Regions from separate parts of the Homo sapiens genome. Here region 2 is linked to region 1. Evidence: fine-mapped expression QTL. Tissue or cell type: whole blood. Region 1 holds a variant in brackets; the other region holds the start of a gene. All regions are shown on one strand. Distances are from middle to middle.

Region 1 (2,680 bases):
GCTTCTTCCTCATCCCTCTTGCCGCCACCATGTATGAAGTGCCTTTTGCCTTCCGCCATGATTGTGAGGCCTCCCCAGCCATGTGGAACTGTAAGTCCAATTAAACCTCTTTTTATTCCCAGTCTTGGTATGTCTTTATCAGCAGCGTGAAAACAGACTAATACACACACCTATGAGTTTTACATCAAGATCATGTGCCTTCCTCTCAGGCCATTCAGCTTTGTTCATAACCTCCAGTCACCATGGCCCACTTCAGACTCCTCCTTCCTGCTTCAGGGCCTTTGCCCATGACTTCCTCTGCTGGATCTCAAGTCAAAGTGCTCAAGACACCCTAAACTTTTCCTCTCAGAGCTAACTCCCAACTGACAATAGTGATTTGTGTAGTCATTCACATGATGTTTTCTTCCTCCAAAGCACCATTGAAGACATTCCAAAAAGCGAGACAGGCACAGTGGCTCACACTTATAATCACAGCTATTTGGAAGGCCAAGGCAGGAGGATTGCTGGAGCACAGGAGTTCGAGACCAGCCTAAGAAACATAGTGGGACCTTGTCTCTACAAAAAAAATAAAGAATAAAAAAATTAGCCAGGTGTGGTGGTGTATACCTGTTGTCCTAGCTACTCAAGAGGCTGAGGCTGGAGGATTGCTTGAACCTGGGATGATCACTTGAGCCCAGGAGGTGAAGGCTGCAGTGAGCCATGATCACGCCACTGCACTCCAGCCTGGGTAACAGAGTGGGACCCTGTCTCCAAAAAAGTTAAAAAGAGAGAAAAAGCGAAAGGAAGTGAGTGGTTGGTATTTATGGACCAAGTCTGAAAACAGCACATGTCCCTTCTGCTCACATTTCATTGGCTGGAATCAGTCACATGGCTCCCCTAACAGCAAGGGAGGCTGGGAAATGTGGTCTAGTACAGTGTTGAAGAGGACGATGTGGACCACAGTGGGGTAAGGTGATTCCTCAAAATGAGAAGAAAGGGGTGATGGGGGCCTGAACAGGCAAAAGGCCCACTATGCACTCCACACGGCCTCCATAACCCCACCCAGGGAGGGGAAGGCATGTCTCCTGGGCCTCCTTCTGCCTTTTCCTGTGGATGGAAAACTCATTAGTGGTCAGCCTCTGGAGCAGATACCGCCCAGAGGCCCCTGATGATACCTCTACCCATCAAAGGCTTCTTACTGTGAATGTAACTGCTTGACTGTGTTGTTCTGACCTCAGGAGCACACTTGGGCCTGTCCTCTGGCAAGCGGGAAGGCTGAGTTCCAGAAGCATCCCTCAACCAGTGAAG[A/G]ATGAGAAGTTGGTGGCTAGATACTCCAGCTGCCTCTTGCTCCTTGGTTGGGATGACTGTCTCTGAGCTTTCCCTAGTGGGGTTGAACTCCAGTTGCCTATCGAAGTGTGCTTTCAATTCATTTATTGAATTTATTGGCTGCTTTCCTTTCCCCATCTCACCTCCCCACTCCCCTGCAGGGGATTCCCTGGGATCACCTCCCAGACAGATTACTTGAACTTAAATACTTCTCTTAAGACCTGCTTCTGGGAGGACCCAAACAAAGGCAGCTCCACAAGGGCAGGGACAAGGGACGGTGATGTGGACTCTTCTCCCCTACCTCCTGTCTTGTGCTTCATGCACATGCAATCGTTCTTTTTTTTTTTTTTTTTTTTTTGAGACAGGGTCTCGCTCTGTTGTCCAGGCTGGAGTGCAGTGGTGTGATCTCGGCTCACTGAAGCCTCAACTTCCTGGGCTAAAGCAATCCTCCCATCTCGGCCTTTCAAGTACCTGGGACTACAGGCGTGTGCCACCATACCTGGCTAATTTTTTGTAGAGATGGGGTCTCACTGTGTTGCCCACACTGGTCTCAAACTCCTGGGCTCAAGCGATCAGCCCACCTTGGCCTTCCAAAATACTGAGGTCACAGGTGAGAGCCACTGTGCCTTGCCAATCATTCTTTTTATTACTGTTTATAAACACACAAAATACATGTCGATGGGTTGGTCATCTTGGCTAGAACTGCTGCAGACTTACCAGGGAGAGGACCTCACGCACTTGGGGAAAAAAAGCCTTGGGGGATTTATCTACTCATCCTGTTTCTTTCCCACACACAGGAAATCCTGGGCAGGCAGAGCTTCCTGACCCAGGGGGAGCTGGTAGCAGCACTGGGTCAAGAATCGCCTCCTCCTGAAAGGAAATGTTTGGGTGGTCCAAGGGAATCCACACTGCCTTCCTCACAGCCTGGAGAAAGGGAAAGTTCAAAGTTCTGGATTCTAATCTCCACTCTGCCACTGGTCTCCTGTACTATTCTAGGCTGTGCCTTCCCCACCCTTGGGCCTTAGATTCCCATCTGTGAAGTACAGAGATAACAGAATAAATGTGCTGTAGGGTATCTTAGAATTGCTACATTCTGACTTTGTGCAATGGCTCATGCCTGTAATCCCAGCATTTTGGGAGGCTGGGATTACTATCTCAGACTTTCTGTGGGTCAGGTATTGGGAATGGCTTAATTAGGTAGTTCTGGCTCAGAATCTCTGAGTTGATTTCTGCCCAGGTTTTTTTGTTTTTTGGGGTTTTGTTTTGTTTTGTTTTTTTGAGACAGGGGCCTGCTCTGTCTCCACGATCTCCGCTTGGTACAACCTCCACCTCCCAGGTTTAAGTGATTCTCCTGCCTCAGCCTCCGGAGTAGCTG
Region 2 (2,680 bases), 59 kb after region 1:
GGCAGACCTCACCCTGCCTGCCACCTGCGGCCCAGCCCCACAGACCATGTGGTTGCTTCCCTGACATGGGAGGATGGGAGGGCTCCTCCCTGCCTTCCCTGAGGAGATGCCACCATCCAGCAGGAGTCTAGACCCCAGGACCACCCACTCCAGCCCTCCTCCATCCTACCCTCAGCCCTTTTCTTAGAGACAGGGTCTCACTATGTCCCCCAAGCTGGTCTTGAACTCCTGGGCTCAAGCAATCCTCCTGCCTTGGCCTCCCAAAGTGCTGGGATTACAGGCGTGCACCACCGGCACCCAACCATTCTACACCCTTTTGTCAGACAGAGCTGACAAAAAGCTCAGAGGCGGGCTGTGATGGTCAAAGTCACATAGCAAGACAGGGACTCCGAACGGGAATTTCCTGGTTGGGGGAGGATGGGAGGCTGCTGCAGAGTAAATGTTGGCAACCAAGTTCCCAACTCGGTTGCCCCTCCGAGTTGGCCCCCTTCCCCGGATCCTGCATATGGGAGGAGGCACCCAGAAAGTCTTCTTTCCCCCCAGGAGAAGGAAAAGAGACTTTCTGGAGCCTCCAGCCCTGGAACCGGGTCGGGGGGGAATTCCAGGAAAACATGAAGTGATGGGGGATGGGAAGTTGGGACAGGATTGGGAGTCATAGGCCACGAGAAGAGTTAGGAGACTGCGTCAGTGTGTCTGGGTGTCCGCTGTCGGACCGGGTAGGGGGAGCTGGGGAAGGGTTCGGAGTTCCAGGCCCCAAAGTCGGTGTCTCAGGCTTCCACGGTGGATGCTGGGGCCATCTGGGGCTAGGGAACAGGAGGGATGGTCCCGGCGCCAGGGGGAAAGCAGGGAGACTCGCGGTTCGAGGTGGTCTTGGGGCCGGGACGGACGGTGCTCCCATGGGGCCGCAGGGTTGGGGAACGATAGTGCCGGGGCTGGAGGCCGGCGTACTCACCTCTACCCGGGCGCGGGTTAGGCCGCTCAGACGGTTCCAGTCCGGCCGGTAGGCAGTGGCGGCTGTGGCTGGGGCCACAAGCGCCGCGAGAAGCAGCAGCAGCGCCAGCGGAGGCAACAGGAGGCTCATCGGGACCCGGCCGCAGATGATGCGCAAGCTGGAGGCGAACCTCCGAGTCGCTGCGCCACGTCTGGGCCCCCAGGCTGGCCCCGCCCCCGCCCCCGCCCCCACTCCCGCTAGAGGCCCAGTCCCGCTGGAGACCACGCCCCCAGCGCTCGGTCTCCGCCCCAGGACTCCCCGCCGTTACCTCCCGCTAGCTCAGGGCGAGGTCCTGGCTCCTCCCTGGCGTTTGGGCCGTCACTTTCCCAGGTCCGAGAGTGTCGACGCTCCTTTTGTCGACCGAGGATGTGGACGCTCCCCCAGGATGCGGCCAGGCAGCGCCACCTCACGCCGGCAGAGGGTGCCGGCGAGACGCTGAGGGACACTGGAGTTTCTGAGCCGAACCTGCGACTTTAAGATAGGGAAACTGGTAGGACATCCAAGAAAAAAAAAGGAAAGAAAGAAAGAAGAATAAATAAGGGAAACTGGCTTTCTGAGGACTCCTCGCTTTGGAGCGTGGGAGATGAGGAGTGAGGTTCGGTGGAGGGGGTGCGGCTTCTGGGAGCCACTGAGACCTACCAGCGTGTCTTCTTACCATCCACAGCTACTGCTGAGCAGACTTTCTGACCTGGGGTGAGGAAAGGAATTTGCTATTCAAAGGTGGGAAAATGCAAGGAGGGTTACAGCTGATAGGCCACAACAGGGTCTTAAATCAGCTGGGTTAAATTTATGGAGTCAGGATTTACTTTTTTTTTTAATGTGGCTATCCAATTCAATTAAAAATCTTGTCTTTTTCATTGCTACTCTGCCGCGTTACCTCTGTTATATATAAATAGGCAACCACGGCCGGGCGTGGTGGCTCACACCTGTAATCCCAGCACTTTGGGAGGCCGAGGTGGGTAGATCACTTGAGGTCAGAAGTTCGAGGCCAGCCTGGCCAACATGGTGAAACCCCATCGCTACTAAAAATACAAAAATTAGCTGGGCGTGGTGTGGGCGCCTGTAATCCTAGCTACTTGGGAGGCTGAGGCAGGAGAATCACTTCAACCTGGGAGGCAGAGTTTGCAATGAGCCGACATCCTACCACTGCACTCCAGCCTGGGCGACAGAGACTGTCTCAAAAATAAATAAATAAATAAATAGGTAACCATATAAATATATGGGAGTCTACTTCTGAATATCATACCCTATTCTAGTCCTTCAGTGGGTTTGTCTAACTACGCTGTCTTATTAACTATAGCTTTATAGTCAGACTTGACATCTGGTTGTGTGTTGGTCCTCTAGCTTTGTTCTTTCTTTCTTTCTTTTTTTTTTTGAGACGGAGTCTCGCTCTGTTGCCCAGGCTGGAGTTCAGTGGCCTGATCTCGGCTCACTGCAACCTCCGCCTCCCGGGTTCAAGCAATTCTCCTGCCTCAGCCTCCCGAGTAGCTGGGACTACAGGCACGCGCCACCACGCCCAGCTAATTTTTTTGTATTTTTAGTAGAGATGGGGTTTCACTGTGTTAGCCAGGATGTTCTTGATCTCCTGATCTCATGATCCGCCCGTCTCAGCCTCCCAAAGTGCTGGGATAACAGGTGTGAGCCACTGCGCCTGGCCCATTTTTTTTTGTTTTTTTGTTTGTTTGTTTT

What was found. PIP is the estimated chance that this variant, and not a neighbour inherited with it, causes the effect.
Region 2: SELENOM starts here. The variant in region 1 is fine-mapped to the expression of SELENOM in whole blood (INTERVAL, PIP above 0.99).

Annotation. Positions count from the first base shown.
Region 1 is chr22:31,047,897-31,050,576 of GRCh38, forward strand. No RefSeq gene overlaps it. Among named protein-coding and RNA genes, the nearest start is that of SMTN, 32 kb to the right of the region's middle. The variant A/G (reference allele first, on the strand shown) is at 1,288.
Region 2 is chr22:31,106,425-31,109,104 of GRCh38, forward strand. SELENOM (selenoprotein M) reads right to left here and starts at 1,144. Exons shown (of 5, transcript NM_080430.4): 1 at 953-1,144. The coding sequence starts at 1,081. LOC105372995 (a long non-coding RNA gene) reads right to left here. Exons shown (of 3, transcript XR_938163.3): 2 at 1,647-1,679; 3 at 1,212-1,462. LOC124905100 (a long non-coding RNA gene) reads left to right here and starts at 1,458. Exons shown (of 2, transcript XR_007068063.1): 1 at 1,458-1,684. RefSeq lists an enhancer at 1-600.